Homo sapiens: one gene and its partners. The protein of the gene in region 1 interacts with the protein of each later gene in a biochemical or structural test. Each region holds a gene or a part of one and is shown in the gene's direction. Other genes may lie near its edges.

Region 1 (7,496 bases):
GTCATTCTGGATGCAAGGGGCTCCAGAGGACCATGATTAGACATTGTCTGCAGAGAAATTATGGCTGGATGTCTCTGCCCCGGAAAGGGGGATGCACTTTCCTTGACCCCCTATCTCAGATCTTGACTTTGAGGTTATCTCAGACTTCCTCTATGATACCAGGAGCCCATCATAATCTCTCTGTGCCCTCTCCCCTTCCTCAGTCTTACTGCCCACTCTTCCCAGCTCCATCTCCAGCTGGCCAGGTGTAGCCACAGTACCTAACTCTTTGCAGAGAACTATAAATGTGTATCCTACAGGGGAGAAAAAAAAAAGAACTCTGAAAGAGCTGACATTTTACCGACTTGCAAACACATAAGCTAACCTGCCAGTTTTGTGCTGGTAGAACTCATGAGACTCCTGGGTCAGAGGCAAAAGATTTTATTACCCACAGCTAAGGAGGCAGCATGAACTTTGTGTTCACATTTGTTCACTTTGCCCCCCAATTCATATGGGATGATCAGAGCAGTTCAGGTGGATGGACACAGGGGTTTGTGGCAAAGGTGAGCAACCTAGGCTTAGAAATCCTCAATCTTATAAGAAGGTACCAGCAAACTTGTCCAGTCTTTGTATCTGACGGAGATATTATCTTTATAATTGGGTTGAAAGCAGACCTACTCTGGAGGAACATATTGTATTTATTGTCCTGAACAGTAAACAAATCTGCTGTAAAATAGACGTTAACTTTATTATCTAAGGCAGTAAGCAAACCTAGATCTGAAGGCGATACCATCTTGCAAGGCTATCTGCTGTACAAATATGCTTGAAAAGATGGTCCAGAAAAGAAAACGGTATTATTGCCTTTGCTCAGAAGACACACAGAAACATAAGAGAACCATGGAAAATTGTCTCCCAACACTGTTCACCCAGAGCCTTCCACTCTTGTCTGCAGGACAGTCTTAACATCCCATCATTAGTGTGTCTACCACATCTGGCTTCACTGTGCCTAACCAAGATTTCTAGGTCCAGTTCCCCACCATGTTTGGCAGTGCCCCACTGCCAACCCCAGAATAAGGGAGTGCTCAGAATTTCGAGGGGACATGGGTGGGGATCAGAACTTCTGGGCTTGAGTGCAGAGGGGGCCCATACTCCTTGGTTCCGAAGGAGGAAGAGGCTGGAGGTGAATGTCCTTGGAGAGGAGGAATGTGGGTTCTGAACTCTTAAATCCCCAAGGGAGGAGACTGGTAAGGTCCCAGCTTCCGAGGTACTGACGTGGGAATGGCCTGAGAGGTCTAAGAATCCCGTATCCTCGGGAAGAAGGGGCTGAAATTGTGAGGGGTTGAGTTGCAGGGGTTTGTTAGCTTGAGACTCCTTGGTGGGTCCCTGGGAAGCAAGGACTGGAACCATTGGCTCCAGGGTTTGGTGTGAAGGTAATGGAATCTCCTGATTCTCAAAGGGTCAGAGGACTGAGAGTTGCCCATGCTTTGATCTTTCCATCTACTCCTTACTCCACTTGAGGGTAATCACCTACTCTTCTAGTTCCACAAGAGTGCGCCTGCGCGAGTATAATCTGCACATGTGCCATGTCCCGAGGCCTGGGGCATCATCCACTCATCATTCAGCATCTGCACTATGCGGGCGAGGCCGGCGCCATGACGTCATGTAGCTGCGACTATCCCTGCAGCGCGCCTCTCCCGTCACGTCCCAACCATGGAGCTGTGGACGTGCGTCCCCTGGTGGATGTGGCCTGCGTGGTGCCAGGCCGGGGCCTGGTGTCCGATAAAGATCCTAGAACCACAGGAAACCAGGACTGAAAGGTGCTAGAGAATGGCCATATGTCGCTGTCCATGAAATCTCAAGGACTTCTGGGTGGAGGGCACAGGAGCCTGAACTTACGGGTTTGCCCCACTCCACTGTCCTCCCAAGTGAGTCTCCCAGATACGAGGCACTGTGCCAGCATCAGCTTCATCTGTACCACATCTTGTAACAGGGACTACCCAGGGCCCTGATGAACACCATGGTGTGTGCAGGAAGAGCGGGTGAAGGCACGGACTCCTGTGTGGTCAGAGCCCAGAGGGGGCCATGACGGGTGGGGAGGAGGCTGTGGACTGGCTCGAGAAGTGGGATGTGGTTGTGTTTGATCTCCTTTGGCCAGATAAAGTGCTGGATATAGCATTGAAAACGGAGTATGAAGACCAGTTAGAATGGAGGGTCAGGTTGGAGTTGAGTTACAGATGGGGTAAAATTCTGCTTCGGATGAGTTTGGGGATTGGCAATTTAAAGGTGGTTTGGGATGGCATGGCTTTGGGATGGAAATAGGTTTGTTTTTATGTTGGCTGGGAAGGGTGTGGGGATTGAATTGGGGATGAAGTAGGTTTAGTTTTGGAGATAGAATACATGGAGCTGGCTATTGCATGCGAGGATGTGCATTAGTTTGGTTTGATCTTTAAATGAAGGAGGCTATTAGGGTTGTCTTGAATTAGATTAAGTTGTGTTGGGTTGATGGGTTGGGCTTGTGGGTGATGTGGTTGGATTGGGCTGTGTTAAATTGGTTTGGGTCAGGTTTTGGTTGAGGTTATCATGGGGATGAGGATATGCTTGGGACACTGGATTCAGGTGGTTCTCATTCAAGCTGAGGCAAATTTCCTTTCAGACGGTCATTCCAGGGAACGAGTGGTTGTGTGGGGGAAATCAGGCCACTGGCTGTGAATATCCCTCTATCCTGGTCTTGAATTGTGATTATCTATGTCCACTTCTGTCTCCTTCACTGTACTTGGAATTGATCTGGTCATTCAGCTGGAAATGGGGGAAGATTTTGTCAAATTCTTGAGACACAGCTGGGTCTGGATCAGCGTAAGCTGCTCTGGTTTTATTGAACAGATGAAATCACATTTTTTTTTTCAAAATCAAAGAAATCTTATAGAGTTAACAGTGGACTCTTATAATAAGAGTTAACACCAGGACTCTTATTCTTGATTCTTTTCTGAGACACCAAAATGAGATTTCTCAATGCCACCCTAATTCTTTTTTTTTTTTTTTTTTTTTTTGAGACACAGTCTGGGTCTTTTGCTCTGTCACTCAGGCTGGAGCGCAGTGGTGTGATCATAGCTCACTGAACCCTTGACCTCCTGGACTTAAGGGATCCTCCTGCTTCAGCCTCCTGAGTAGATGGGGCTACAGGTGCTTGCCACCACACCTGGCTAATTAAATTTTTTTTTTTTTTTTGTAGAGAAAGGGTCTCACTTTGTTGCCCTGGCTGATCTTGAACTTCTGACTTCAAGTGATTCTTCAGCCTTGGACTCCCAAAGCACTGGGATTGCTGGCATGAGCCACTCACCGTGCCTGGCTTGCAGCTTAATCTTGGAGTGTATAAACCTGGCTCCTGATAGCTAGACATTTCAGTGAGAAGGAGGCATTGGATTTTGCATGAGGACAATTCTGACCTAGGAGGGCAGGTCAACAGGAATCCCCGCTGTACCTGTACGTTGTACAGGCATGGAGAATGAGGAGTGAGGAGCCACCGGAACCCCATATTGTTTAGTGGACATTGGATTTTGAAATAATAGGGAACTTGGTCTGGGAGAGTCATATTTCTGGATTGGACAATATGTGGTATCACAAGGTTTTATGATGAGGGAGAAATGTATGTGGGGAACCATTTTCTGAGTGTGGAAGTGCAAGAATCAGAGAGTACTGAATGCCAACGCTTCTATTTCAGGAACATGGTAAGTTGGAGGTCCAGCTTCTGGGCTCAGACGGGTATAGGGACCAGGAAGTCTCACAATCCGATCATTCTGATATTTCAGGGCATATTAGGTTTGGGGTGCAAAGGAAGTACTTGGGACTTAGGCACATGAGACTTTGTATTGAAAATCAATGATTGGGGCTGGCCGTGGTGGCTCACGCCTGTAATCTCATCACTTTGGGAGACCGAAGTGGGAGGATGGCTTGAGCCCAGGAGTTGGAGACCAGCCTAGGCAACATAGCCAGACCCTCTCTCTACAAAAAAATTAAAAATTAGCTGGATGTGGTGGTGCATGCTTGTGGTCTCAGCTATCCTGGAGGCTGAGACAGGAGAATCGGTTGAGTCTGGGAGTTCAAGGCTACAGGGAGCTGCGATCACGCCGCTGCACTCCAGCCTGGGAAACAGAGTGAGACTGTCTCAGAATTTTTTTAAAAAAGAATCAGTGATCATCCCAACCCCTGTTGCTGTTCATCCTGAGCCTGCCTTCTCTGGCTTTGTTCCCTAGATCACATCTCCATGATCCATAGGCCCTGCCCAATCTGACCTCACACCGTGGGAATGCCTCCAGACTGATCTAGTATGTGTGGAACAGCAAGTGCTGGCTCTCCCTCCCCTTCCACAGCTCTGGGTGTGGGAGGGGGTTGTCCAGCCTCCAGCAGCATGGGGAGGGCCTTGGTCAGCATCTAGGTGCCAACAGGGCAAGGGCGGGGTCCTGGAGAATGAAGGCTTTATAGGGCTCCTCAGGGAGGCCCCCCAGCCCCAAACTCACCACCTGGCCGTGGACACCTGTGTCAGCATGTGGGACCTGGTTCTCTCCATCGCCTTGTCTGTGGGGTGCACTGGTGAGATTGGGGGGATAAAGGAAGGGGGGCGGGTTCTGACTCTTATGCTGAAGCCCTTTTCCTCCCACCCAGTGCCCCAGCCTCGTCCCTTCAGCCCACAGTTCAGCCCAGACAATGTGCCCCTGACTCTTCCACATTGCAATAGTCCTCATGCCCACACTAGGTCCCCGCTCCCTCCCACTTACCTCAGACCTTTCTCTCCATTGCCCAGCCAAATCCCTGCTCCCAGCTGCTTTACTAAAGAGCAAGTTCCTGGGCATCTCTGTGTTTCTCTTTATGGGGTTCAAAACCTTTCAAGGACCTCTCTCCATGCCACTGGTTCCTTGGACCCTATCACTGGGCTGCCTCCTGAGCCCCTCAGTCCTACCACAGTCTACTGACTTTTCCTATTCAGCTGTGAGCATTCAACCCTGTCCCCTGGACCTTGACACCTGGCTCCCCAACCCTGTCCCAGGAAACCCAGATTCCACCAGACACTTCCTTCTTCCCCCCGAGGCTATCTGGCCTGAGACAACAAATGCTGCCTCCCACCCTGAGTCTGGCACTGGGACTTTCAGAACTCCTCCTTCCCTGACTCTTTGCCCCAGACCCGTCATTCAATGGCTAGCTTTTTCCATGGGAAAAACACGAGCACCCCCAACCACAACGGCCAGTTCTCTGATTCCCTAAATCCGCACCCTTTTCAAAACCTCAAAAACAAAACAAAACAAAACAAAGCAAGAAACAACTCAGGCAGAACTGTTTGCTTAACCTTGGACATGGTAAACCATCCAAAACCTTCCTCTCCCAGCAACTAAACCTCTCCACTGGGCACTTATCCTTGGTTTCTGGAACCTCTTATTCTCTTAGAACCCACAGCTGCCACCACAGTGTCCCTTCTCCCAGTGTAAGACCCCAAATCACTCCAAATGACCCAACCCCCAACCCGATGCCTGCTTCAGATGTTTCCCATGTCCCCTACTCTGATCTCTGGGGTCAGCTCCGTTCTCAGAGCATGAAGCCTCCCGACCTGGTCCAGCCACCAACCCGCTAACGCAGGGAATAGCTACAGAATTGCCAGCCCTCCCAGGACCCCTTGCTTGTGTCCTGGACTCCCAGTCCTGGTCCTCTGCCCCCATGTCTCTTCAAACCCACAGCTCAGCTCCCTCCCCTATCCAATTCTTTTGGGTCTGATCCCCCTGACCCAGCACCCCCTCCGCAGGTGCCGTGCCCCTCATCCAGTCTCGGATTGTGGGAGGCTGGGAGTGTGAGAAGCATTCCCAACCCTGGCAGGTGGCTGTGTACAGTCATGGATGGGCACACTGTGGGGGTGTCCTGGTGCACCCCCAGTGGGTGCTCACAGCTGCCCATTGCCTAAAGAAGTAAGTAGGACCCTGGGATCTGGGGAGGGAATGGCTGTGTCCCACAGGAATAACAGCGGGATGCTTCCCCCAGGGTCACTTCTCAGGTGAGGCTTCAGACTAAAGGAGAGAGGGAAGGTCCTGGCCCAGGTCGCACCCGGAGGCAGAGCTGGGGCTGGACCACTCTCCCCATGGCTGCCTGGGTTTCTCTCTGTGTCTGATCTCGCTGTGTCTCTTGGTATCTGGCTCTGGTTGTGTCTGTATGACTGTGTTTTGGTCTCTATGTCCCTCTCTCTTTTCTGTCTCCCTGTGTCTGTGTCTCCCCCGTCTCTGTCTCTGGGTCTCTCTGTGGCCATCTCTGTCACCGTGTGTCTCACCCTGCATCTCTTTGCCTGTCTTTCTCTCTGGGTCTCTGCCTCAGCCCTTCCTCATCACTACTGAACACACCCCGTGAGGGTGGGTGGGGAGCACCCAGAAAAAGGAAGGACTTTAAGCTCAATGTGTGTGCATGTGAGGGGGTGCCTGTCATTGCACAGCACTCTCTGCAGGACATCCCTCCACCCTGGGGAGACACAGGGAGGGCTGGTTTCAGCTGTAGCTGGGTGCACAATTGAGGAGGGAGGAAGGAGAAGGGGAAACAAGAAAGGAGGGGAAGGTGGCCGGGCACGGTGGCCCACGCCTGTAATCCCAGCACTTTGGGAGGCCGAGGTGGGTGGATCATCTGAGGTCAGGAGTTTGAAACCAGCCTGGCCAACATGGCAAAACCCCGTCTCTACTAAAAATACAAAAAGTAGCCAGGCGTGGTGCTGCGCGCCTGTAATCCCAATTACTAGGGAGGCTGAGGCAGGAGAATCGCTTGAACCCGGGAGGGAGAGGTTGCAGTGAGCCGAGATCGTGCCACTGCACTCCAGCCTGGGTGACAGAGCAAGACTCCATCTCAGAAAAAACAAACAAACAAACAAACAACAAAAAAAATCGAAAGGAGGGGAAGGGAGCTGGAGAGAGAAAGGGGGACGTGGCCCTGAGCTGTGGGCCGGGCCACCCGCCACTACAGAGCCCTCACTCCAGCCCCAGCTGCAGGTGAGCCACCCTCATGCCTCTCCTCCTCCCCCTGCTACTCCACACTCCTCAGATGCCCCCGTGGCCTCCCTCCTTTTTCTCTCCCACACTGTATCACCCCTGGCTTCCTCTCTGCTGTTTCTCCTTCTCTCTCTGACTTCCCGCATCCTTTTCTCATTTGTCTATTTCTCACTCCCTTCCTGGTTCTGTTCTTTCTCCCTTCCTCTTCCCCATGTCTATTTCTTGCTGTCTCTGTCTCTTCTTTGCTCATCCTAATTCTCACTGTTCTCCCTTCTGTTTTTGTCATTCCTCTGCCATTTTATGCTCTCTCTTTTCCACTTCGTTTCTTTCAGTTTCTGTCTCTGCCTCTCACATGATCACACTCCTGTTTTCTAACTCACTGTCTGTATTTCACCACGACTATATCTCCCCGACCCCTGTGCTTTTCTCACTGTTTCTTTTTCTTCCCTTTGGAGTCTCCCTTATCCTCCCCTGCCCCATCTACCTTTCCCCATTTTCTCTCTCCTCATG
Region 2 (7,005 bases), on another chromosome or scaffold:
CTTTAAAGGAAAAAGGAAAAAAATTATTTGAAGGAACAGAAAGACCCAGCATGTTCTTGGCTAGAACAACTAAATCAAAGTACAAATGTTGGTTTATAACAGGGTAATATGTAAATTCAATATGTTTCTAATAGATTACCAACAAGATTTATTTTTATTTTCATTTATTTTATTTTTATTTTATTTTATGTTTTTGAGACAGAGTCTCGCTCTGGTGATCCACTCACCTCTGCCTCCCAAAGTCCTGGGATTATAGGCGTGAGCCACTGCATCTGGCCTGTTTGACTACAGTTTAATTTTATTTTTTTAATTATTATATATATATTTTTTTGAGACAGGGTCTCGCTCCATCATCCAGGCTGGAGTATAATGGCACCATCTCAGCTCACTGTAACCTCTGCCTCCCAGGTTCAAGCAATTCTCCTGCTTCAGCCTCCCAAGCAGCTGGGATTATAGGCACACGCCACCAGGTCCAGCTAATTTTTGTATTCTTAGTAGAGATGGGGTTTCACCATGTTGGCCAGGCTGGTCTTGAACTCCTGACCAAGTGATCTGCCTGCCTTGGCCTCTCAAAGTACTGAGACTACAGGTGTAAGCCACCATGCCCTGCCAACAAGATTTTTTTCTTTAGAGCTAGACAAGTTGACTCTTAAATTTGTATGGGTGAGGCCGGGTGCGGTGGCTGACACCTGTAATCCCAGCACTTTGGGAGGCTGAGGAGGGTGGATCATGAGTTCAGGAGTTTGAGACCAGCCTGGCCAACATGGTGAACCCTCATCTCTACTAAGAATACAAAAATTAGCTGGGTGTGGTGGCATGCGCCTGTAATACCAGCTACTTGGGAGGCTGAGGCATGAGAATCGCTTGAACTCAGGATATGGAGGTTTCAGTGAGCCAAGATCGCACCACTGCACTCCAGCCTGGGTGACAGAGAGGGACTCCAGCTCAAAAAAAAAAAAAAAAGTTTGTATGGGAGAAAAAGCAACAAGGAGAGCCAGGAAAATCTGAAGCAGAAGAGCAGTAAGGAGAATGCGCTGTACGAGATATTGAATCATAAGAGAAAACCTCTATAACTGAAAGAATCTGACCAACAGAACCAAATAGAAAGTTTAGAAAGTTCAGAATCAGACCCAAGTATATGCAGCTATTTGATATATAACATAGGTGGCATGTGAAGACATTAGTGAAAATGGTTTTTCAATAAACAGAGGTGGAAAAACTGAAAGTCACTTGAAAGCGAGTTAAAATTGGATCTATATTTCCCATACACCAGAATAAACTTTAAAGGGATCAGCAATCTAAATATAAAAAATAAAACTGTGCAAATACTAGAAGAAAACATTAGTGAACTCTATAATCTAGAGATTATTCTTTTTTTTAAAAAAAAAGAGATTGCTCCTTGTGAATAGAGAAAGTTTTTCTAACTACGACTCAGAAACAATAAAGGAAAAATCATTAAAGTTGACTACATTAAAAGAGTGTATGCCAAAATCACCAGAAGCAATGTCAGAAAACAGATGACAAGCTGGGGGAAATATTCGCAATTTATATCACTTAAGACTAATTAAGCCACAACTAGGGAGGGGCGTGTGGTTTGCTCCTGGCATCCACTTGGTGAATCTCCTCCAGAGATTCTGTGAAACATGTGTGATGGCAGGACAGCCCCCACAACCACAAGTTATCGGGTTCATGCGGTCAACAGTGTCGCAGTTGAGAAACTCTGCCTTAGGGTAAGCACAGAGGGAGTAAAACAGCTTGAGTTCTCAAAATTGAACTCATGTAAAACACCTGGCTAGTATCTTCCCTACTTCCATTTATGCTAGATGTTTCTGTTTTCCAAGACTGCTCTGTCTGAGATGGCAGATGGAGTTTTCATACTTACTTGGCTAACCTGTCAGTACCCTGGGGTCTAATTCCTATGCCTGGAGAGAACTGGAAGTCCTTGAACACACGGCTCAATGATGTGGGCTCTGCTCATTTATATACATTTATTTTTAAATTTAATATATATTTTAGTTTTTTTATTTCCATAGTTTTTTGGAGAACACGTGGTATTTGGTTACATGGCAAGCTTTTTTTTTTTTTTCCTGAGATGGGGTCTTGCTCTGTTGCCCAGGCTGGGGTGCAGTGGCATGATCTCAGCTCACTGCAACCAACCTCCGCCTGCTAGATTCAAGCAATTCTCCTGCCTCAGCCTCCTCAGTAGCTGGCACTACAGATGTGTGCCACCATGCCTAATTTTTTTATATTTTTAGTAGAGACGGGGGTTTCACCATGCTGGCCAGGCTGGTCTCGAACTCCTGACCTCATGATCTGCCTGCCTTGGCCTCCCAAAGTGCTGAGATTACGGGCATGAGCCACTGCGCCCTGCCAAGTAAGTTCTTTAGTGGTGATTTGTGAGATTCTGGTGCATCTATCACCTTAGCAGTATACACTGAACTCAAATTTGTAGCCTTTTATCCCTCACTCCCTTCCCACCCTTTTCCCCCAAGTCCCCAAAGTCCATTGTATCATTCTTATGCCTTTGTATCCTCATAGTTTAGGTCCTACTTATGAGTGAGAACATACAATGTTTGGTTTTCCATTCCTGAGTTACTTCACTTAGAACAACAGTCTCCAATCCCATCCAGGTTGCCAATGCCATTAATTCATTCCTTTTTATGGCTGAGTAGCATTCCACCGTATACGCATACCACAGTTTCTTTATCCACTCTTTGATTGATGGGCATTTGGGTTGGTTTCATGTTTTTGCAATTACGAATTGTGCTGCTATTAACATGCGTGTGCAAGTATCTTTTTTGTATAATGACTTATTTTCCTCTGCGTAGATACCCAGTAGTGGGATTGCTGGATCAAATGGTAGTTCTATTTTTAGTTATTTAAGGAATCGCCATACTATTTTCCACAGTGGTTGTACTATCCATCAGCAGTGTAGAGGTGTTCCCTCTTCACCAAATCCACGCCAACATCTATTATTTTTTGAGTTTTTGATTTTTTGATTAAGGCCACTCTTGCGGGAGTAAGGTGGTATCACATTGTGGTTTTGATTTGCATTTCCCTAATCATTAGTGATGTTGAGCATTTTTTCTTGTTTGTTGGCCATTTGCATATCCTCTTTTGAGAACTGTCTATTCATGCCAGCCCACTTTTTGATGGGATTTTTTTTTCTTGCTAATTTGTTTGAGTTTCTTGTAGATTCTGGATATTACTGCTTTGTCGGATGTATAGATTGTGAAGATTTTCTCCCACTCTGTAGGTTGTCTGTTTACTCTGCTTGACTATTCCTTTTGCTTTGCAAAAGCTATTTAGTCTACTTTTTTTTTTTTTTTTTTTTTTTTTTTTTTTGAGACGGACCAGACTGGAGTGCGGTGGCGCCATCTCGGCTCACTGCAGCCTCTGCCTCCCGGGTTCAAGTGATTCTCCTGCCTCAGCTTCCCCAGCAACTGAGATTACAGGCACGCGCCATTACACTCGGCTAATTTTTGTATTTTTAGTAGAGACGGGGTTTTGCCATGTTGGCCAGGCTGGTCTGGAACTCCTGACCTCCAGTGATCCGCCTGCCTCGGCCTCCCAGTGTTGGGATTACTGGCGTGAGCCCCGCGCCCGCCCCTGGCTGGCTTCTTTGCCGCAAGCTGTTTCATCAGCAAAGTCTTTGTGACCTGTATCTAGTCTGCTCATTTTTAAATGCGTGTTCTGCACTCCCCAGTGGATGGCCGTGTATCAGGAGCCGGCCCTTTTCTGGAAACAGGCCAGCATTCAGTCTCCACAGAGGCACCATAAACACGCTGGTGGGGCCCTGTACTGTGGTCAAAGTCAAGGCCTCCGGGCAGGACTCGCGGCCCCTCCGGCTGGCGGGTGGGGTTGACCCGCACGTCCCGCCCCGCCTCTCCCTTCGCGCTCCGGACGGGCGACGGTAGCTCGAGACCCGGGACTCCGCCCGCCTCCCCGCGAGTATTTGAGGTCCGGGGCGGCTCCGGCGCCTCTGCCCGCCGTTCTGCTCGCTCGCTCCCCGCTCTGGAGTACGTGTCTGGCTTGGGAGCCGCTCGGACACGCTGGCTTGGGTTTGTCGCTCCAAAGTCGGGAAAGCCGGGGGCGCGAGCGGGGAGGGGGGCAGGGTGGGGGTCGCGCGGGGCCGGGAACGCGCGTGGGTCGACGGCGCGCGGGGACGCTGGAGCCCCGAGAATGGGGCGTGGCCGCGCGGGGCTGTGACCCCAGCAGTCCCAGCGGGGCGGGGGCCCGGGCGAGCGTCCGGCTTGGGTTCCCTTCCGGAGCCTCGCAGCGGCAGAGAACGGCGACGCGGCCGGGTGAGTCGTGCGTGGCCGCGAGCCCGGCCGGTGACGCCGCGGACCCGAGGACCCCGGGCGCCCAGGCCCAGCGCCCACGGAAGAGGCGGCCGGCGCGGGATGGGGGCGGCGCAGAGCCTCCCGGGCCACAGGTGACCCCGGTCGGCCCCGCGGCCTCGGTGACCCCTCGCCCGCTCCGCGACCCGGAGGACGCGTGCTCAGTCTTGGGGCGCCGGGTGTTAGGAGCCGGGCGGGAGGCGGAGAGAGGCCGAGGGGTTCGGCGCCAAACGGTGCCATCCGGGCCCCCTGCGTGTGTTCACTGGACTGGCCGTGCTGGGCTTGGCCAATCCGCAGCACTTTCAGGTCGCCCAGACCTGTGGAGACGATCGTGTGGACCAGCCCGGATCTCCTTACCGCTCTGTGTTTGAATTAAACTCCCTACAGGCAAACTATTACAGGCTTTGATGTCTTCAAGGCAAAGAGGAAACTTTAACTACAAATTGGCATTTAAGTTATTTTCTTCCTTTTTTTTTTTTTTTTTTTTGTCCTAAAGATTGGCTTCGGAAAACTGAGGTACAGAAAATTAATAATTAATGTTCACATGCTGTCAGGAATACTCAGATGCGAGGGGGCATCTGAGTCCATTTTTTGGGCACTTTTGCTTTCTGGGATGCTCTCGTGCCTAATGACAGCCCTGCAGCTGCCTGCATCCTTTCTGGTGGGGGTCAGGCCTGATGCGATGAGATCTGATGTGTTCAGTGACCTTCTAGTTAAGGTCCTGGGCCGGCCTTGTATTGCTGGGGCTTTTATGTGTGCTGGGATTAACACCAGTGACTGCTGTTATCAGCATAGATGGCGTTTGTTCTCATTTCAGGACCGTATCTGAGTAATTGCATCCATTGTGATGTGCCACCAAAGAGAAAAGTACTTTGGTCATACTCGACTATGTAAACTAAGTATTTTAAGTTAAGGCCAATTCCAATGCATTTTATTACAATTCAGCATGAAACAGTTAACACGGACCAGTAACAGTAGAGTGAAATTAGCATGAATAGAACCAACATTCTTTTCCACATATGTAATAATAAGGGCACCCAAGCAGATGTTGTACGGTCCCAGGGAAGACCACACACCTTACATTTCCAGGCTTACTGCACTTGGGATTAAGCCAAGGCATCCAAAGAAAGAAAATTTTTTTTTTTTTTTTTTTTGCCAGGCTGGAGTGCAGTGGTGCGATTTCGGCTGACTGCAACCTCCACCTCCCGGGCTCCATACCTGGCTAATTTTTGTATTTTTAGTAGCAATGGGGTTTCACCATGCTGGCCAGGCTGGTCTCAAACTCCTGACCTCGTGATCTGCCCGCCTTGGCCTCCCAAAGTGCTGGGATTACAGATGTGAGCCACTGCGCCTAGCCTGAAAATAATGTTTAACTCCCATTTATATGTTAGGCTGCTCAGATATATTAAACACATACACACACAACACACACACACACACACATACACACTGCACAAGGAAACAGAGGGACAAAGCAGGAAGTCCAAGTTTCCATTAAACCAGTCTTTAAATGGTTAAATTTAGTAGGAAATAAAGGCATCCTTAATAGAAGTTGAGAAGCACAATTCAATAGTGACACCTAAAAAAAAATTAAGACTTGATTAGTTGAATAAAATCAATTGTGAACATTGCTCAGTTACTGGTGATGCTACAGGAAAAAAAAAGTGATGCCAGGATAGATTTGTTAGGCTTGTTTAAAAAATACATAAAATTGTTCATTAATAAGACTTTAATATCCAGTTTTTATGTCTGTGATTAAATATCATTTTTTATTTTTAAATGGTATAGTTTTTAAATTTTGAAACAATTAATTTTGCATAAATATTTGTCTATGTACATATATACATGTGTATTCACATATATATATGAAGGACACTTAGCTATCTTATTTACTGAAGCTAAAGAAGTAGGTCCTTAAAAAGCCATTGACAGGTCTTGAGTTTGCAACGTGACTGTGAAACAGGCATCCTTGTTACTCACACGTTTGCTGAAAGGATAACAGAAAGCCCTCGATAGAAAAATCTCACTAGATTGTTTATAATTTGTTGATATTTGGAGTATCTTGAGTGGTAAACTTTAAATGTGGATTTATTTTTTCTTTCCTTTTAGGATTTGGATCTCTCCAATCTTTTTTATGATTAATTGTTCAGTGTTTATGCATTATTGCGAAGTGATAATGAAAATGCTCAAACTCAGGGTCCTGCAGGCACTGTGGGGGAGGCAGTGGGGACGTGAGGGGATTACAGATCCAGTAGAAGCCCCCCGACCCCCATCTGCTTCCACCCCATCTCCTTCCAGAACACCACCGATAGCCACACCGAAGAGTTCTCCCATTTGCTGGTTCCCGGACAAAAAAGCTGCTGATCCCTTGAGCACACTGCAGTGAAGCTCCCAGCTGACATGTCCTGTCCATGTAAACAGAACTTCCTCCATGTAAACAGAACTTCCAGCATTGTTTGTGTTTTCCTCTTAACTATGTACTGACATCCAAGGGTTGTTAGGAATGTTTGGAAAGTCTAGGTACAAAAGAGAGACCTAAATAAAATAAAGCAAACACCAGCCACCATAACAAAAGGACCCCAGAGATAGGCAGCGCAGGGAACGGAAGACTCAATAAACTATAATTGTGGTATCCAAAGAATTAGTATAGAAGGCAAAATGGAAT
Region 3 (2,941 bases), on another chromosome or scaffold:
AGGCTGGGCAGGGCGGGTAAGGAGGAAGCGTCTGGCTGGCAGTGGAGCTGAGTCAGAGCTGTCCTGTGTCCTGCTCTTTTCCAGGGCTTCGGGAGCGGGGAGAGGGTTGAATATGAGCCCCCAGACCCTCTGTCCTAGAGGAAGTTGGGGTGGCCCGGGGAATGGGGCTCTGCTTTGCTGCCCAAGACCTCGCATTGCAAGGAGAGTCTGGGTAGAGAGCCTGGGATGGCATGTGAGCCTCGCTGGCTTCCCTGGAAGGGGAAGGAGGAGAAGCTGGGGTGTCACACTGTTAAAGAAATGCTGGGTGGAGTGGCTCATGCCTGTAATCCCAGCACGTTGGGAAGCTGAAGTGGGTGGATTGCTTGAGCCCGGGAGTCCGACACCAGCCTGTGCAACACATTGAAACTCCGTCCCTACAAAAAATACAAAAATTAGCCAGGTGTGGTGCATGCTACTGGGGAGGTTGAGGTGGGAGGCCCTCTTGACCCCAGGTGGCTGAGGCTGCAGTGAGCCATAATTGTGCCACTGCACTCCAGCCTCAGCAAAAGAACTAAGACCTTGTCTCAAAAATAAAAATAAAGGCCGGGCATGGTGGCTCACGTCTGTAATCCTAGCACTTTGGGAGGCCAAAGAGGGTGGATCACCTGAGGTCATGAGTTTGAGACCAGCCTGGCCAACATGGCCAAACCCGTCTCCACTAAAAATACAAAAATTAGCCGGGCGTGGTGGCGCATGCCCATAATCCCAGCTACTTGGGAGGCTGAGGCAGGAGAATTGCTTGAACCTGGGAGGAGGAGGTTGCAGTGAGCCGAGATCACGCCACTGTACTCCAGCCTGGATGACAGAGTGAGACTCCATCTCAAAAAAAAATTATAATAACTAAAATAAATAAATAAAGCATCTATCCTTCAGCCATTTGCTAAGCAGCTGCTGTATTCCAGGCACTGTACCAGGTACCGGGAGCCCACCATGTACAAACAGCTGAGTCTAATGGGGTGGGCAGACGAGCAATCACATACTTACTACAGCATAAGCGATAAGACAGAGAGGGCTTCTCTCCAGCTCACCTGGGAGAACACTGAAAATGTACCTTGGTTGGACTTTAGAGCTGGGGATCAGGGAAGGCTTCCTGGAGGAGGTGGTGTTTAAGCTGAGTCTTGGAAACCGGATAGGAATGAAGCAGGTATCTGTGAGTTCAAGCTGTTCCCTGGCCAGGATCTCAGACACCCTCCCAAGCAGCTCCAGGAGCCTGTGAGGCCAAGGGCAGCTCTGACCAGCCATCTCTGGCCCTGGGCAGGCCTGCAGGAGTTGTTCCAGGCCCCAGACCTGCGTGGGATCTCCGAGCAGAGCCTGGTGGTGTCCGGCGTGCAGCATCAGTCCACCCTGGAGCTCAGCGAGGTCGGCGTGGAGGCGGCGGCGGCCACCAGCATTGCCATGTCCCGCATGTCCCTGTCCTCCTTCAGCGTGAACCGCCCCTTCCTCTTCTTCATCTTCGAGGACACCACAGGCCTTCCCCTCTTCGTGGGCAGCGTGAGGAACCCCAACCCCAGTGCACCGCGGGAGCTCAAGGAACAGCAGGATTCCCCGGGCAACAAGGACTTCCTCCAGAGCCTGAAAGGCTTCCCCCGCGGAGACAAGCTTTTCGGCCCTGACTTAAAACTTGTGCCCCCCATGGAGGAGGATTACCCCCAGTTTGGCAGCCCCAAGTGAGGGGCCGTGGCTGTGGCATCCAGAGTCCCTGCCTGGACCAGCCTCTCCACTCATGTGACTCTTTCCAACCGGCTTTGTGGCACTGGGGCAGGGGCCGGGGGCAGTCTGAGAGAGGCCATTCTTTCCCAACACCTCTTGGGGAGTTTAGGGTGGGGGGGGGGCGCGGCTGGGAGGAGGGCAGGCATCGGGGAGCCGGGAGCCTGACCCTCATCTTTCTTCCAAACAGGCTCAGAGGGTGTCCTGCACCGGGGCCTGGGCAGGAGGGAGGTGCTTCTAGTTCTGCCAGGAGACAGGTTAGCTGCTCCCCACGTCAGCTGGGACACCCCGACTTTTGTTTACCAGAGAAAAAGGGAGGGGGAGAGGGCTGCCTTTGGACTTGTCCCGGGACACCTAGGCTAGGGTGGGGAGAGACGGGCCCTGGTGGTGGCTCGGGAGGCGAAGCGTTGTCCTCAGCCCCGCGTGGAACTCGTGTCTGGCACAGCCTGGCTGTGGCCTAACCTGCCGAGAGTCCATCAGCCTCCATCCTACCCCCTGTGCCTTGTCACGCCAGACTTCCCACGGCTCCTCGAGATCCCAACACTGCCAGCATTTCCCTTCCTTCCTCTCCTGTCTCCCTCCTCTGCCCGGGAGCTCAGGAACCGAGGCAGGGAAGGATCCCATGAGCTCCTTAAGGCTCTTTTGTAAGGTTTTTGTAGTGATTTTTATGCCACCTGAATAAAGAATGAATGGGCCTGGCTGGTTTGATGTCACCGTTCTGGGCATGGGTGGGGACAAGTGAGGATGGTGGGGAAGGCAGGGAGGCGGCCGCAGGGTGGACTGTGCTGAGGAACCCTGGGCCCAGCAGGGGTGGCAGCCCGCGCAGTGCCACGTTTGGCCTCTGGCCGCTCGCCAGGCATCCTCCACCCCGTGGTCCCCTCTGACCTCGCCAGCCCTCCCCCGGGACACCTCCACGCCAGCCTGGCTCTGCTCCTGGCTTCTTCTTCTCTCTATGCCTCAGGCAGCCGGCAACAGGGCGGCTCAGAACAGCGCCAGCCTCCTGGTTTGGGAGAAGAACTGGCAATTAGGGAGTTTGTGGAGCTTCTAATTACACACCAGCCCCTCTGCCAGGAGCTGGTGCCCGCCAGCCGGGGGCAGGCTGCCGGGAGTACCCAGCTCCAGCTGGAGACAGTCAGTGCCTGAGGATTTGGGGGAAGCAGGTGGGGAAACCTTGGCACAGGGCTGACACCTTCCT
Region 4 (7,900 bases), on another chromosome or scaffold:
AGAGAAAGAAATAAAGGGTATTCAATTAGGAAAAAAGGAAGTCAAGTCTCTATTTGCAGATGACATGATTGTATATTTAGAAATCCCCATTGTCTCAGCCCAAAATCTCCTTAAGCCAATAAGCAACTTCATCAAAATCTTAGGATACAAAATCAATGTGCAAAAATCACACGCATTCCTATACAACAATAACAGACAAACAGAGAGCCAAATCATGAGTGAGCTCCCATTCACAATTGCTACAAAGAGAATAAAATACCTAGGAATCCAACTTACAAGGGATGTGAAGGACCTCTTCAAGGAGAACTACAAACCACTACTCAACGAAATAAAAGAGGACACAAACAAATGGAAGAACATTCCATGCTCATGGATAATAAGAATCAATATCATGAAAATGGCCATACTGCCCAAAGTAATTTATAGATGCAATGCTATCTCCATCAAGCTACCACTGACTTTCTTCACAGAATTGGAAAAAACTACTTTAAATTTCATATGGAACCAAAAAAGAGCCTGCATAGCCAAGACAATCCTAAGCCAAAAGAACCAAGCTGGAGGTATAACACTACCTGACTTCAAACTATATTACAAGGCTTCAGTAACCAAAACAGTATGGTACTGGTACCAAAACAGATATATAGAACAATGGAACAGAACAGAGGCCTCAGAAATAACACCACACATCTACAACCATCTGATCTTTGACAAACCTGACAAAAACAAGAAATGGGAAAAGGATTCCCTATTTAATAAATGGTGCTGGGAAAACTGGCTAGCCATATGTAGAAAGCTGAAGCTGGATCCCTTCCTTACACCTTATACAAAAATTAACTCAAGATGGATTAAAGACTTAAATGTAAGACCTAAAACCATAAAAACCCTAGAAGAAAACTTAGGCAATACCATTCAGGACATAGGCATAGGCAAAGACTTCATGACTAAAACACCAAAAGCAATGGCAACAAAAGCCAAAATTGACAAATGGGATCTAATTAAACTAAAGAGCTTCTGCACAGCAAAAGAAACTATCATCAGAGTGAACAGGTAACCTACAGAATGGGAGAAAATTTTTGCAATCTATCCATCTGACAAAGGGCTAATATCCAGAATCTACAAGGAACTTAAGCAAATTTACAAGAAAAAAACAAACAATCCCATCAAAAAGTGGGCGAAGGAGATGAACAGACACTTCTCAAATGAAGACATTTATGAAGCCAACAGACATATGAAAAAATGCTCATCATCACTGGTCCTTAGAGAAATGCAAATCAAAACCACAATGAGATACCATCTCATACCAGTTAGAATGGGGATCATTAAAAAGTCAGGAAACAACAGATGCTGGAGAGTATGCAGAGAAATAGAAATGCTTTTACACTGTTGGTGGGTCTGTAAATTAGTTCAACCTTTGTGGAAGACAGTGTGGCAATTCCTCAAGGATGTAGAACTAGAAATACAATTTGACCCAGCAATCCCATTACTGGATATATACCCAAAGGATTATACATCATGCTACTATAAAGACACATGCACACATATGTTTATTGTGGCACCATTCACAATAGCAAAGACTTGGAACCAACCCAAATGTCCACCAATAATAGACTGGATAAAGAAAATATGGCACATATACACCATGGAATACTATGCAGCCATAAAAAAGGATGAGTTCATGTCCTTTTCAGGGACATGGATGAAGCTGGAAACCATCATTCTCAGCAAACTAATACAGGAACAGGAAACCAAACACCACATGTTCTCACTCATAAGTGGGAGCTGAACAACGAAAACATATGGACACAGGGAGGGGACTATCACACATTGGGGCCTGTTGGGGGGTTGGGGGCTGGCAGAGGGATAGCATTAGGAGAAATACCTAATGTAAATGACAAGTTGATGGGTGCAGCAAACCAATATGGCACATGTATACCTATGTAAAAAACCTGCACGTTGTGCACATGTACCCCACAACTTAAAGTATAATTTAAGAAAAGAAAGAAAGAAGGAAAATGATGCTCTGAGGCCGGAGAACTTGAGAACACTCAGATAATGCTCTGAGGCAAGATGACTAGTCATCCCCAATGTCCACTCTCTTTGTCTCTCTCATGGTAATGGAACTCTGAATTTTTAGCTGGGAGGTGGCTACCTAGAATCTTGACTGCACTGCACAGCCTCCTTTGTAGCTAGGTATGGCCATGGGACAAAACTCCAGGCAACACAACACAAGTGGGAATGACAGGCAATGTTCAAGGCATTCCTTTCAAAAGAAAGGGTGTGCCCTTCCCTTCCCCTGTGGCCCTTTCTATGGACTGGAAGGTGGACATAGCAGTGAGCCATCTTAGCCTAGACAAACAGACGTGGAGGGGCAGCTGAGCAACCAGACAGGAGGACGTGGTTTCTGACAACGTGGAGGCACCATATCAACCCACTGCCTCCAGCTGGACCTGCAGGAGAGGGAAATGAACTTCAGTCTCATTTTAGCAACTATTTCTTTAGGATTCTGTGTAACTTAAACATATGTATTGGCCAGGTACAGTGGCTCACACCTGTAATTCCAGCACTTTGGGAGGCTGAGGTGGGAGGATCCCTTGAGGCCAGGATTTCAAGACTAGCCTGGACAACACAATGAAACCCTGCCTCTACAAAAAAATAAAAATTTAAAAATTAGCCAGGCATGGCGTTGTGCACCTATGGTTCCAGCTACTCAGAAGGCTGAGGCGGCAGGATATCTTGAGTCGAGGCGGCAGGATATCTTGAGTCCAGGAGTCAGAGTCTTCAGTAAGCAACGAGCAATGATTGCGCCACTACATTCCAGCCTGGGTGACAAAGCGAGTCTCTCTCTCTCTCTCTCTCTCTCTCTCTCTATATATATATATATATATATATAATATATATATAAAAATATATAATATATTATATATGTGTATACGTATATATGTATATATATACACACACACACATAGAGAGAGATATATATATAAAGACACACACACACACACACACACACACACACACACACACACACACATTCAATTCCAAAACTGGGAGCCTGAAAGTCATTTAAGAAAGATGGGCCCAGACAGTTATTGGTCATCTTAGTGCCTTACAGTCAACAAATATGTAAGTCCTCTAAAGATGCAGCACTATCGCAACAGACAAACAAAAAATCCTGTCCTCGTAGAGTGTACATTTAATATCATTTCATTTCATCTTGATTACCACTCTGTCAGGGAATATTGCCTTGCATCTTAGACATGAGGAAATTAAGCTGTAGAGATTTCCCATGATTTGTTTGAAGTGAGTCAGTTGGTGAGTCAGACATCAGAGATTCAAGCCAGGTCAGCTCATGCCAGAGCTAGAACCTCGCCACTGGTCTGGTGGCCTCCAAAGCATGCCCTCTAGAGAGGCCTGTCAGGGCTACCCCGGATGGGGACTGTGACCATGAGGAATCAAGAGGAAGGATTTTTTTTTTTTTGAGACAGAGTCTCTCTGTGTTGCCCAGGCTGGAGTGCAGTGGCGTGATCTTGGCTCACTGCAACCTCTGCCTCCTGGGTTCAAGCGATTCTCCTGCCTCAGCCTCGCCTCCCAAGTAGCTGGGTTACAGGCATGCGCCATGATGCCCTGCTAGTTTGTTTGTTTTTTTTTTTTTTGTATTTTTAGTAAAGATGGGGTTTCGCCATGTTGGCCAAGCTGGTCATGGACTCCTGACCTCAGGTGGTCTGCCCACGTCAGCCTCCCAAGATGCTGGGATTACCAGCATGAGCCACTAGTCCCGCCCAGGATTTTTTTTTTCCTTTTTCATGAGCCAAAGAAAGACCCCAGACTAGCTAAGAGAGAGGCCCAAGGATACCTGAAGGCCGGGGAGGAGGGACAACCACTTGTTGGGGTGAACCAATCGCAGAGGCTCAGCAGGACAGAGGCCAAGGCTGAGGAGGCCCCCACAGAGAAACAGAGCCTGAGGACAAGGGGTTCCTCACAACACCTGTGCTCCCCGAAAGCTCCCCTCCACACCCCTCTCTAGGTGCCCTACTCTCTGGGGTTGGTGAAGGGGTGCCAAAAATGCAAACTGATCCACAGAAAAATAGAGTCCTGTATTTTAAAAATATATCTAGGTTTGTATATGGACATTCACATCACACAGACACACAGACACACATGCAGCCACACACACACACACACACAGAGACACCAAAGAAAAGTGCTTTAGAAATACACCAAAATGTGGCTGGGTGCGGTGGCTCATGCCTGTAATCCCAGCACTTTGGGAGGCTGAGGTGGGCAGATCACGAGGTCAGGAGTTCAAGACCAGTCCGACCAACAAGGTGAAACCCTGTCTCTACGAAAAATACAAAAATTAGCTGGGCGTGGTGGTGTGTGCCTGTAGTCCCAGCTACTCGGGAGGCTGAGGCAGAAAGTTGCTTGAACCCGGGAGTCAGAGGTTGCAGTGAGCTGAGATCACGCCACTGCACTCCAGCCTGGGCAACAAAGCAAGACTCTGTCTCAAAATAAAAATAAAAAATAAAAAGAAATAAAAAAGAAATATACCAAAATGTTAGCTGGGGTCTTCTCTGGGTAGTAAAGTGCTGGGGGATATTTTCCAAAGTCCTTCTTTACATTCTCTGAGTTTTTCCATGTTCTTCAATGAGTATTTAATAAGCAGATAAAAACTAATACAACAAAGGATTTTTTCTGTGTGCTTTTTTGACCTTTGGAGGAAGAGATTAGAGCTAGTCCCATAACCAGGTTATTTGAGTAGGTCTAACAAGCCCGTATTACCAGAAATTATCATCTGGTCATTTCCAGTCCGAGAACAGAACACTTGGTTGTCCTGGCATTTCCCAAGCAGGGGGAGGAGTTCTCTGCAGGAATAAATAAGCCTCAGCATTCATGAAAATCCACTACTCCAGACAGACGGCTTTGGAATCCACCAGCTACATCCAGCTCCCTGAGGCAGGTAATCCATGATGTTTTACATCCTGGGAGCGGAGGAATCTGTTTTTCCAGGAGAGTTTTAGGCAGCAGCCTGGAGTGTGTGGAGTGTGAGGGGTAAGCAGAGGCCAGGAGGAGGTGTACTCAGGTGTTAGGGGCCAGGGGTCTGTTCTTGGCTGCCACTGATTCCCTGTGCCTTTTTTAGAGGCATCCTCTGTGTCTGGGTTTTCACACCTGCAAAGGGTGGAGGTGCCCTGGGGCCTCTATGGTCATTTCTGCCTTGATACTTACAGATTCGGATTTGAGTCAGCTGTGCATCTGACCCTCAGGGAAGAGGTGCTGTCCCCTTGCCTGGAGCAGGGTGCAGCTCTCAGAACATGTGGCAGATGTGATTATTGCAGCAGGTCCCTCTGAGCAGAGGCCACAGGCCTCACCATGATTTCAGGGTCTCCATGGGGCTGCCTCGGGAGCTCCACTTCCCCAAAAGGACCCCTGGCCAAGTCGACAGATGGGCTGTGTCTCTGTCCAGCAACAGAAAAGACAAACTGCTGGGAAACAGCCAGCCCTCCAACTTGCCCAAACAGAAAAGACAAGCCTTTGCCCCTGAAATAATTCTGGAGAAAAATATTGTCTAACATTTATCCAGAGAAATGATTGCATCAGCCTGAGAGTGAACAGTTGAAGCAAACAAGGTGCCTCTGTCCCTGGGCTTGGCCAAAGGCATTTCCACTGGCCTCCCCTCCTTCCCCTCCTTCCCCTCCTTCCCCTCCTTCCCTTCCTTTCCTTCCTTCCCTTCCTTCCACTCTCTCTTCCCCTTTTCTTCTCCTCTCTCTACCCCTCTCCCCTCCCCTCCCTTCCAATCGCCTCTCTTCCCCACTCTTCTCCCCAGCACCCAAGCTGCCCCTTTTCTCTTCTGAATTCTAGGACTGAGTGGGCGGAGGCTGAAGGTGAATAATCTTGTTTGCTGCGGTCACCGGCTTGGAACTCAGCCCTTCCAGGGTCTCTTGTGCAGTAGCTCATGGCTCTTCTCTGGCTTGTAGTTTCAGGAAAGGGGTAGTATGGGAGGTGGTGACTGCTCGGTACGTCTAATATGAACCAGGTGCCTTCATCATTTATCTCACCTGAGCCACTTAACAGGTTGTGCAGAGACGGAAACAGGTTGAGAGATGTACAGTCACCTGCTTGCCAGTACACAGCAATCAAAAGTGGCCAAAATAAAATCCCAGTCCAAGTCTGGGAGACTCCAAAGCCCTCTCTGCCTTCTCCCCACTAAGAGGCCCTTCCAGGCTTATGGTGGACACAGACACCACGTGGCAACCTGGCAGGGGCAGAGAAGAACATTTGCCTTTCTTTGGTCTTGCTGCCAACCATTATCAGGGCCATCGAGGCTCCAGACACTGTACCAGGGACTTTCATTTCCCTCTCTCAGTCGACCCTCACTGCCACCCAGCATCACATCGTGGAGGCCTGTGGAGGCCACACCACGTGACATCTAGAGGCTGGGAGAGTCACTGTGGCCTCTATCTCTGCCCAGGGCTCCTTCATCCCTGGGTTCTACTTTGGTGGCAGTTGGGAGAATGAAGGAAGGGAGCCCCTGCTTTCTAATCCCCTAGGATGAGATCTGCTCACCAAGCAGGAGAGGAGCAGGCATTCTGATTGGACTGAACCTCGGACCCCCCATCAGCTTACAGACCGAGGAGCCAGGCAAACCTGGCTGCCCACTGGGCTCCTTTACCTGTTTGCTGTATGATCTTGGGCAAGCCCCCTCACCGCTCTGTGCCCGGCTTTTCCACTGCAAGAAAATGGCAACAATTATGGTACCTACCTCAAAGGGTGAAATGAAGCAGAGTGATGTGTGTCGGGTGCCCCAGAGAGCACCTACCTGAGGGAGGCTCCAAAGCTAGCAAGAGGCAGCAGGACAGGGACCAGGACGCAGGCTGGGTGGAGGGCAGTGGGAGGTGGTCGGGGCTCCATCTGGCCCTCTGAGACTTAAAGGAGCTTTGCTTTTCAGAGTTGAGAATGGAGAGAATGTTACCTCTCCTGGCTCTGGGGCTCTTGGCGGCTGGGTTCTGCCCTGCTGTCCTCTGCCACCCTAACAGCCCACTTGACGAGGAGAATCTGACCCAGGAGAACCAAGACCGAGGGACACACGTGGACCTCGGATTAGCCTCCGCCAACGTGGACTTCGCTTTCAGCCTGTACAAGCAGTTAGTCCTGAAGGCCCCTGATAAGAATGTCATCTTCTCCCCACTGAGCATCTCCACCGCCTTGGCCTTCCTGTCTCTGGGGGCCCATAATACCACCCTGACAGAGATTCTCAAAGGCCTCAAGTTCAACCTCACGGAGACTTCTGAGGCAGAAATTCACCAGAGCTTCCAGCACCTCCTGCGCACCCTCAATCAGTCCAGCGATGAGCTGCAGCTGAGTATGGGAAATGCCATGTTTGTCAAAGAGCAACTCAGTCTGCTGGACAGGTTCACGGAGGATGCCAAGAGGCTGTATGGCTCCGAGGCCTTTGCCACTGACTTTCAGGACTCAGCTGCAGCTAAGAAGCTCATCAACGACTACGTGAAGAATGGAACTAGGGGGAAAATCACAGATCTGATCAAGGACCTTGACTCGCAGACAATGATGGTCCTGGTGAATTACATCTTCTTTAAAGGTGAGTGTGCCTGGCTTGGGGTTCAGAAGAGGTGGATCTCAGGGCCATTTCTGTCCTGACTCAACAATGGTGTTATTAGGCAAACCACTGTAGAGGAGAGTGCCCACAGCATGGGGGCAGCATAAGCATCAAGGCCCCACCCTGCCCATAGGCATCGCCGTCTCCTGTGGGGTTTTTCCAAATTACAGTTTGTCCTTGGAAGACATAATTCAGTGGAGCCCATCAGCCTCTGGTCTGAGTCAGTGTGGTGCTTTTCACTCTGATTTAAACTTGTCCGGCAAACAGAAAGAAGGAGCTCTCCTTTCA

Evidence for each region.
Region 2: the proteins of KLK2 (region 1) and SERPINB6 form a complex in vitro, tested with the Homo sapiens proteins (one study listed by BioGRID).
Region 3: the proteins of KLK2 (region 1) and SERPINF2 form a complex in vitro, tested with the Homo sapiens proteins (one study listed by BioGRID).
Region 4: the proteins of KLK2 (region 1) and SERPINA3 form a complex in vitro, tested with the Homo sapiens proteins (one study listed by BioGRID).

The regions. Positions count from the first base shown.
Region 1 is NC_000019.10:50,868,954-50,876,449, forward strand, and holds the start of KLK2 (kallikrein-2 isoform 1 preproprotein), read left to right. Parts: upstream 1-4,485; 5' UTR 4,486-4,520; coding exon 4,521-4,566; intron 4,567-5,767; coding exon 5,768-5,927; exon of another isoform or gene 5,928-6,013; intron 6,014-7,496. UniProt on the Homo sapiens protein: Glandular kallikreins cleave Met-Lys and Arg-Ser bonds in kininogen to release Lys-bradykinin.
Region 2 is NC_000006.12:2,968,547-2,975,551, reverse strand, and holds the start of SERPINB6 (serpin B6), read left to right. Parts: upstream 1-3,984; 5' UTR 3,985-4,019; exon of another isoform or gene 4,020-4,403; coding exon of another isoform or gene 4,404-4,435; exon of another isoform or gene 4,436-4,747; coding exon of another isoform or gene 4,748-4,794; intron 4,795-4,828; exon of another isoform or gene 4,829-6,740; coding exon of another isoform or gene 6,741-6,773; intron 6,774-7,005.
Region 3 is NC_000017.11:1,752,825-1,755,765, forward strand, and holds the end of SERPINF2 (alpha-2-antiplasmin isoform a precursor), read left to right. Parts: intron 1-1,297; coding exon 1,298-1,710; 3' UTR 1,711-2,441; downstream 2,442-2,941.
Region 4 is NC_000014.9:94,607,491-94,615,390, forward strand, and holds the start of SERPINA3 (alpha-1-antichymotrypsin precursor), read left to right. Parts: upstream 1-4,900; 5' UTR 4,901-4,957; exon of another isoform or gene 4,958-5,049; intron 5,050-5,856; exon of another isoform or gene 5,857-5,879; intron 5,880-6,545; exon of another isoform or gene 6,546-6,749; intron 6,750-6,943; 5' UTR 6,944-6,951; coding exon 6,952-7,594; intron 7,595-7,900. UniProt on the Homo sapiens protein: Although its physiological function is unclear, it can inhibit neutrophil cathepsin G and mast cell chymase, both of which can convert angiotensin-1 to the active angiotensin-2.